Regions from separate parts of the Homo sapiens genome. Here region 1 is linked to region 2. The links come from fine-mapping of genetic effects on gene expression. A gene starts in region 2. The other region holds a variant in brackets. All regions are shown on one strand. Distances are between the middles of the regions.

Region 1 (4,368 bases), 980 kb after region 2:
ATCCTTTGGTCTCTGACTAGCTTCCACCTCGTAAATCAGGAGTGGACAAGCTTTCCTGCCAAAGGCTGGAGTCTCTGCTCCCACTACTCAACTCTGCCCTTCTGGTGTGAGAGCAGCCACTAACCGTATGTGAATCATTTGGCTGTGTGCCGTAAACCTTTACTTACCAACACTGAAATCTGAATTTCATACCTCTTTCAGGTGTCAGAAATGTTCTTTTTCACCCACCCCCATTTAAAAATGTGAAGTCCATTCATAGCTCCCAGACCTTAAAAAAACAGCCAGGGGCAGGGTTTGGGGGGCCCTAGCTTACCACCTCTGTTTTACTTTATTTATTTCTATTTATTAATTATTATTATAATTATTGAAACAGAGTCTCACTGTGGTCCAGGCTGGAGTGCAGTTGCGTGATCTCAGCTCACTGCAACCTCCGACTCCCAGGTTCAAGTGATTCTCCTGCCTCAGTCTCCTGAGTGGCTGGGATTACAGGCCCATGCCACCACACCCGGCTAATTTTTGTATTTTTAGTAGAGACAAGGTTCCACCATGTTGGCCAGGCTGGTGTCCAACCTCTGACCTCAAGTGATCCACCCACCTCGGCCTCCCAAAGTGCTGGGATTATAGGCGTGAGCCACCGCACCGGCCACTTATTTATTTTTGAGACACAGTCTGGCTGTGTTGCCTAGGCTGTATCCTCCCACTTTAGCCTCCAAGAAGCTGGGGCTACAAGTGTCCACCACCACACCCAGTAATTTTTTTTTTTTTTTGAGACAGTCTCGCACTGTCACCTGGGCTGGAGTGCAGTGGTGCGATCTCGGCTCACTGCAAACTCTGCATCCCGGGTTCAAGCGATTCTCCTGCCTCAGCCTCCCGAGTAGCTGAGATTACAGGCGCCTGCCACTATGCCCAGCTAACTCTGTTTTGTTTTTGTTTTTGTTTTTGTTTTGTTTTTTCATTTTTAGCAGAGACGGGGTTTCACCATGTTGGCCAGGCTGGTCTCGAACTCCTGGGCTCAAGCGATCCTCCCGCCTCATCCTCCGAAAGTGCTGGGCTTACAGGCCTGAACCACAGCGCCCGGCCTCCACCCCTGTCAGAAGAACCCTCTGAAAATCGGTCCCACTCTACGGAGGAGTAGAGGGAGACTCGGAGAGGATACGGACCGTGCCCATGTTGCGGGGGTTCCCAGGGCGTGGGGTCAGGAGTTAGGGGTGTGCTTCTCTCCCGTCCCCTTGCTGCCGGGGTCTCAGGTCCGCTTTTCCCCGGGACCGGGCTCCCCCTACCTTCCGGGGCCAGGATGGTGAACACTGGATCCTCTGCCGGCGCACCCCGCACATCCTCCAGGATCTGCTCCACCGTGGGGGGCGCTGGGCGGGTGGGCAGCAGCACGCGCTTCTTTGCCTTGGAGCCCATCTCTGAAGGCGGGGAAGGGGGCGCTGACCGGGGCGTCCACCTCTCCGCCCTTGCCCGGGCTGCTCCTCCCGCCCAGCGAACTCGTACGCACCCGTCGCGGTCCCGCTCCCGGGGAAGCCCGCCCTGTCCCGCCCCTCTGAGCTCGCCCCAGGCCCTGACCCTCCCTCCGCCCAAAAACACGGTGGCCAAGGCTTCAGGGTCTGGCTCAACCTCTGCCTCAGTTTCCCCGCGGTCACCCCAGTCGCCGGCCTCTTCCCACCTGGGCGCGGGACCCGAAAGCCCAGCGTCGACGACGCAGCCACTTCCGATTCCGGTCGGAGCACCGCCCCGTCCCCGAACACGTGACACACACTTCCGGCCTCCTCTCCCGCCGGCCCGCCGCTCATCGCGGGGCTCCGCCCCGTCTTAAAGGGATAGTGCCCTTGAGACTCGGATCTCAGCCTCTCAGGCGAACCCGAACCTGGACGCGCTACGATGAGAGCGAGTTCGAGTCCAGGCTCCACTGGCTGGGTAGAAAAGCATCCGAGGCTCGTCTTTCTGAAAAGGGGAACACGGCACTAGGGGACACGCCACCCATGTGGCTGACGGGAGCACAAAATTGCTGTCCACCTAAGGGAGCCTGGTGGTGCATGAGCACTCGGCGGCCGGAACACAGCGGGGGCGGGGCGGTCGCGGCGCCTCCACTTCCGGCCAAGGCGGGTCCTCCCACCTCGGGGACGGTGCTGGAGGTCACCTTTTCCTCTCCGCTGATGCCTGGGAAGGCAGAAAGAGCAGAGGGCCCTTTTCCTCTCTCAGGGGCTTTATTGAGATGCAGTTTACATACCATAAAGTTCTCCTGTTTATTTCGTTTTGTTTTGTTTTTTTAGAGACAGAGTCTCACTGTGTCGCCCAGGCCGGAGTGCAGTGGCGTGATCTCAGCTCACTGCAACCTCCGCCTCCCGAGTTCAAGCAATTCTCCTGCCTCAGCCTCCCGAGTAGCTGGGACTACAGGCGCCCGCCACCACGTCCGTCAAAATTTTTTTTTGTATTTTAGTAGAGATGGGGCTTCACTGTGTTGCCCAGGCTGGTGTCAAACTCCTGAGCTCAGGCAATCCGCCCGCCTCAGCCTCCCAAAGTGCTGGGATTACGGGCGTGAGCCACCGCGCCCGGCCAAATTCGCCTGTTTAAACTGTAAATTCAGCCTGGGCG[C/T]GGTGGCTCATGCCTGTAATCCCAGCACTTTGGGAGGCCGAGGCGGGCAGATCACTTGAGGCCAGTTTGAGACCAGCCTGGCCAACATGGTGAGACCCCGTCTCTACTAAAAATACAAAAATTAGGCTGGGTGTGTTGGCTCACGCCTGTAATCCCAGCGCTTTGGGAGGCCGAGGTGGGTGGATCACGAGGTCAGGAGATCAAGACCATCCTGGCTAACATGGTGAAACCCTGTCTCTACTAAAAATACAAAAAGAAAAACAAAATTAACCAGGCATGGTGGCGGTTGCCTGTAGTCCCAGCTACTCAGGAGGCTGGGGCAGGAGAATGGCATGAACCCGAGAGGCAGAGCTTGCAGTGAGCCGAGATCGTGCCACTGCACTCCAGCCTGGGCGACAGAGCAAGACTCTGTCTCAAAAAAAAAAATATTGTTGAGAGAGAAGGAAGGAAGGAAGGGACAGAGAGAGGGAAAAGGAAAGAAAGAGAAAGAAAGGAAAGAAGGAAGGAGAAGAAAAAGGAAGGAAGGAGAGAGAGAAAGAAAAAAAAGAAAAAGGAAATAAAGAGAAGAAAGTAAAGAAGAAAAGGGAGAAAAGAAAGGAAAGGAAGGAAAGAGAAGGAAGAACGGAAGAAAGGAAGGCGAGAGAGAAAGAAAAAGAAAAGAAAGAGGAAGAAAGAAAAAGGAAAGAGAAAGAAGGAAAGAAAGAAAGAAAAGGAAAGGAAGGAAGGGGCCAGGTGCGGTGGCTCAAGCCTGTAATCCCAGCACTTTGGGAGGCCGAGGTGGGCGAATCACGAGGTCAGGAGATCGAGACCATCCTGGCCAACATGGTGAAACCCATCTCTACTAAAAAAGGAAGGAAAGAGAAGGAAGAAAGGAAGGAAAGAAGGAAGGAAGTAAAGAAAAGGAAGGAAGGGAGGGAGGGAGGAAAGGGCCAGGCACAGTGGCTCACGCCTGTAATCCCAGCACTTTGGGAGGCCAAGGAGGGAAGATTGCTTGAGGCCAGGGTTCAAGGCTGCAGTGAGCTACAATCGCACCACTGTACTCTAGCCTAGTCAACGTAGGGAGACCCTGTCTCAAAACAAACAAGAAAAAAAACAAAGGAATCACCGCAGGAGAGGATTCTGGGCCATGGTGAGCCATGTTCTGGGGCTGGACATTACTGCTGACCCCCGGCCATTCCCTGCTGTTCCCACTGCCTGGGGTCCCTGGGCCTGGGCGGACTCTTTCTCCGTGGCCGGCTGCATTCTCCATGGACTGATGTCCGGGGACCCCAAGCAGAAACCACCTGAGCCCTGGGGCCTCGGGCCCACCCTGCTCCAGAGGAGGCCACAGACTGAGCACCTTCTAAGCAACCTTTATTTGCAAACTCTGAGGTTGGACGCGGTGCCCGAGGCGGACAGTGTCACGTTTCTCTCCCTCCACTTTCCCCTGGCTTTTGGGGTGCTCCAGCCTCTCCCCCCAGCCCACTCCCGCCCAAACCCAAAATGCAGAGGAGACTTCTCTCTCTCTCTCTCCCGCCAGGCTTCGGGGTTCCACGGGGCCCATCCCTGGCAGGCCAGGCGTCGGGTGCTGGTGCTCGCTCCTCTGGGGCCAGCCTGGGGAGGCAGCATGGCAGCAGTGCCTGTCAGGGACCCAGGCGGGGGCAAGGTCGCTTTCTGAGCTGACAACTTCAGGTTCCAGCTGGCAGCCAGACCTGGGGTTTGGTGGGGGTGGCCCTGGCACGGGAGAGCCAGGCGTATAGTGGGAGGTCCATGGACATGCCGCAGAGGACG
Region 2 (4,368 bases):
GGCCCCTCCTCGGAGTCTGCTTTCCGGTGAGGCCTTTCCCGGCACCAGCCTGGGCAGGAGGGGGATGGGACCCAGGGAGACAGGGCTGTGAGCTCACACACCTGGGCCCTCACCTCTGAGGGGACTGTTTCCCCACCCCGGGCCTCAGTTTCCCTCCTCTAGGCCTCAGTTTCTCTCCTTTGCACCCAGCCCCTCCTCTAGGCCTCAGTTTCCCTCCTCAGCACCCAGCCCCTCCCCCGAGCCTCATTTTGCCTCCTCTGCACCCAGCCCCTCCCCTAGGCCTCAGTTTCCCTCCTTTGCACCCAGGCCCTGCCCTGGATCTCAGTTTCCCTCCTCTGGTCCCAGCCCCACCCCTGGGCCTCAGTTTCCCTCCTCTGATCCCAGCCCCTCCTCTGGGCCTCAGTTTCCCTCCTCTGGTCCCAGCCCCGCCCCTGGGCCTCAGTTTCCCTCCTCTGATCCCAGCCCCTCCTCTGGGCCTCAGTTTTCCTCCTCTGGTCCCAGCCCCGCCCCTGGGCCTCAGTTTCCCTCCTCTGGTCCCAGCCCTGCCCCTGGGCCTCAGTTTCCCTCCTCTGACAGGTAAGCCGATTGGCAATGCTTGGAACCCCATGGACTGGCTGCTGCTTTTTATTCCATGGCCAGGGAAACTGAGGCACAGACAGACCCTGAGGTCAGCAGGAATGCTCCATCATTTTATTCCCGCGTGCCTGCGGTGCATGGGGTCCAGGGTCACAGGACCGGCCCCTGGGTGGAGGGGAGCCAGCCATCACGACTGCCACCACAGGCCCTCATTGAGCTAGGAGCAGAGCACCCTGGGAACCACAGCGGAGGAGGGTGGGGGGCGAGGGGGTGAGGGGGTGGGCAGAACCTGGGTAAGGTGAGGAGCAGCCCGGGCAGAGTCCCAGAGGCCCTGGGAGGGTCCCGGTGATGCAGGGGGGTAAACAAGCCACCAGCGGAGACAGAACCAGTGTGCGGGGCTTGGAGGAACAGGTGGGTGGATTCCAGTGCGTTTGGAAGATGAGGTTCCCAGGACTCGCTGATGGCAGCTGTGAGTGGGAGTCCAGCCAGCATCCCTTCCAGATCCCTCTTGTGGACCGAGATCCAGGTCTCAGTGTAGACCAAGGAACAGAGGCAGCCCCTACTCGGGCTCCCAGGCTCCAGCCAGGCCTGCTAGGTGGGCGGCCTCTGCCCGTGTGATGGAAGGAAGCCAGGCTCAGAGATGGGGTGACTTGTCCCACGTCCTGGAGGGTCTCACAGCTCCACCACGGCCAGGAGACTTCAGTCCAGGGGGCCTCCATCCCCAGCGACCTTCACCTGACCCCCAGGGGACCCCAGCCAACAAGACCCGGCCTGCAGCTCCGGAACGGGGGAGGGCTGCTCTCCACCGCCCCTGTGCGGCCGCCCGGGAAAGTGCAGGCGGGCCGGGCGCGGTGGCTCACGCCTGTGATCTCAGCACTTTGGGAGGCCGAGGTGGGCGGATCACCTGAGGTCGGGAGTTCGAGGCCAGCCTGCCCAACATGGAGAAACCCTGTCTCTACTAAAGATACAAAATTAGCCAGGCGTGGTGACGCATGCCTGTAATCCCAGCTACTGGAGTGGCTGAGGCAGGAGAATCGCTTGAGCCCGGGAGACAGAGGTTGCGGTGAGCTGAGATCGCACCATTGCACTCCAGCCTGGGCAACAAGAGCGAAACTCAGAAAAAAAAGAAAAGAAAGTGCAGGGGACCCGCCGTCGGGGTGGGGGCGGCGCTGCCCAGCCTCTGTCCCACTTCCATGCACTTGACCTCGACCCTCCGGCCTCCGTCTGCGATCTTCCCGTGCCTGAATATGAGGCTTGGAACAGACCCAGACCTTCCTGCCTGCCCGTCCTGAGTGGCCCCGGGACCCCGCCCCATCTTTGGCCCCCAGCCCCTGCCTCTCTGCCGCCTCCAGGGTCGGGGGTCAGGCCAGGAAAGCCCCTTGGGAAGCCCCCGGGGAGCAGCTGGAGCGGGGTCGCCGGGCGGCGGGAAGGAGTGGGCGCCTCTATTTAAGCGGCTTCCCCGCGGCCTCGGGACAGAGGGGACTGAGCATGGATTTCGGACTGGCCCTCCTGCTGGCGGGGCTTCTGGGGCTCCTCCTCGGTGAGAAGGGGAGGGGGCGCGGGAGAGAGGAGTGAGTTAGGAGGGGGCTCAGGAGAGAGGAGGGGGCTCAGGAGAGGGGAGGGGGCTCAGGAGAGAGGAGAGGGCCCGGGAGAGAGGAGGGGGCCCAGGAGAGGGGAGGGGGCTCAGTAGAGTGGGGGGGCTCAGGAGAGAGGAGGGACGCAGGAGAGAGGAGGGGCGCAGGAGAGAGGAGGGGGCTCAGGAGAGTGGAGGGGGCTCAGGAGAGAGGAGGGGCGCAGGAGAGAGGAGGGGGCGCGGGAGAGAGGAGGGGGCGCGGAGGGGAGGGGGCGCAGGAGAGAGGAGGGGGCGCAGGAGAGTGGAGGGGGCGCGGGAGAGAGGAGGGGGCGCGGGAGAGGGGAGGGGGCTCGGGGGAGAGGAAGGGGCGCGGTGAGCGGGGAGGGGACGCGGGAGAGAGGAGGGAGTTAGGAGGGGGCTCAGGAGAGGGGAGGGGGCTCAGTAGAGTGGGGGGGCTCAGGAGAGAGGAGGGACGCAGGAGAGAGGAGGGGCGCAGGGGAGAGGAGGGGGCGCAGGAGAGTGGAGGGGGCTCAGGAGAGAGAAGGGGCTCAGGAGAGAGAAGGGGCGCAGGAGAGAGGAGGGGCGCGGAGGGGAGGGGGCGCAGGAGAGAGCAGGGGGCGCAGTAAAGTGAAGAGGACTCAGGAGAGAGGAGGGGGCGCGGGAGAGGGGAGGGGGTTTGGAAGAGAAGGGGGGCTCGGGAGAGGGGAGGGGGCTCGGGAGAGGGGAGGGGGTTCGGAAGAGAAGGGGGGCCCGGGAGAGGGGAGGGGGCCCGGGGGAGAGGAAGGGGCGCGGTGAGCGGGGAGGGGACGCGGGAGAGAGGAGGGAGTTAAGAGGGGGCGCAGGAGAGAGGAGGGGCTCGGAGGGGGCGCGGGAGAGACGAGGGGTGCTCAGAGTTAAGGGGCTCCGAGATAGGGGGTGATTGGTGATCCTGCCAGAGGAGGGGGCTCGGAGGAGGCAGGGGCTGAGAGGGGAAGTTGCGGGGCTCCGCGCGGCCCCCTGACCCGCAGCGAAACTGGCTCCAGGCAGCTGGGGTTCGGGGGACTGGGGCAGAGGCGGCGGTCGGGGCGGGGTTCAGGGACCGAGCCTGGGAGTCCGGGTAGCGGCGGGGCAGGGGTCCGGGGGTGCAGCGGAGGGTCCGGGAACCGGGCAGAGGCGGGGCGGGGTCCGGGGGTGGAGCGGGACGCAGGGCCGGTGGCGGGGCGGGGTCCGGGACTCCGCGGGGCTGAGCGAGAGCCGCGGTCGCCGCAGGCCAGTCCCTCCAGGTGAAGCCCCTGCAGGTGGAGCCCCCGGAGCCGGTGGTGGCCGTGGCCTTGGGCGCCTCGCGCCAGCTCACCTGCCGCCTGGCCTGCGCGGACCGCGGGGCCTCGGTGCAGTGGCGGGGCCTGGACACCAGCCTGGGCGCGGTGCAGTCGGACACGGGCCGCAGCGTCCTCACCGTGCGCAACGCCTCGCTGTCGGCGGCCGGGACCCGCGTGTGCGTGGGCTCCTGCGGGGGCCGCACCTTCCAGCACACCGTGCAGCTCCTTGTGTACGGTGAGGCGTCCCCCCGCGCCCTGCCTCTCTGACCCTTGGACTCCCGGCTCCTTCCCTATGCCACCTCTTCCTGGAAGCCTCCCAGATTGCAGGCAGGGTCCCAGCTCCATGCACAGCTCCCCGAAGCCAGGTCCCCGGCCTTCGCTTCCCTCCAACTCACCCCAACTCTCCCAGGGCCGGCCCTGGCCCATCCTCCTGTCTATTCCAGCCTCCCAGGGTGGGGCCACGGGGCCTGCGCACAGGCCGTCCCTACTGCCTGTTCATCAGCAGCCCCCACGCATCCTTGGCCCCAGCTCCAAGCCCCTCCGGGCTCCGGCCCCTCCATCACGTCCAGCCCTGACTCTGGGCTCAGCCCTCACCCCCGACCCTCCATCACAGCCTTCCCGGACCAGCTGACCGTCTCCCCAGCAGCCCTGGTGCCTGGTGACCCGGAGGTGGCCTGTACGGCCCACAAAGTCACGCCCGTGGACCCCAACGCGCTCTCCTTCTCCCTGCTCGTCGGGGGCCAGGAACTGGAGGGGGCGCAAGCCCTGGGCCCGGAGGTGCAGGAGGAGGAGGAGGAGCCCCAGGGGGACGAGGACGTGCTGTTCAGGGTGACAGAGCGCTGGCGGCTGCCGCCCCTGGGGACCCCTGTCCCGCCCGCCCTCTACTGCCAGGCCACGATGAGGCTGCCTGGCTTGGAGCTC

What was found. PIP is the estimated chance that this variant, and not a neighbour inherited with it, causes the effect.
Region 1: its variant is fine-mapped to the expression of MADCAM1 in adrenal gland (GTEx, PIP above 0.99).

Annotation. Positions count from the first base shown.
Region 1 is chr19:1,477,494-1,481,861 of GRCh38, forward strand. C19orf25 (chromosome 19 open reading frame 25) reads right to left here and starts at 1,722. Exons shown (of 3, transcript NM_152482.3): 1 at 1,670-1,722; 2 at 1,281-1,412. The coding sequence starts at 1,410. It overlaps PCSK4 (proprotein convertase subtilisin/kexin type 4), which reads right to left. Exons shown (of 15, transcript NM_017573.5): 15 at 3,935-4,368. The coding sequence ends at 4,266. RefSeq lists enhancers at 907-1,407, 1,769-1,888 and a silencer at 1,499-1,548. The variant C/T (reference allele first, on the strand shown) is at 2,599.
Region 2 is chr19:494,436-498,803 of GRCh38, forward strand. It overlaps MADCAM1 (mucosal vascular addressin cell adhesion molecule 1), which reads left to right and starts at 2,051. Exons shown (of 5, transcript NM_130760.3): 1 at 2,051-2,116; 2 at 3,398-3,682; 3 at 4,061-4,368. The coding sequence starts at 2,065. RefSeq lists a silencer at 1,369-1,418.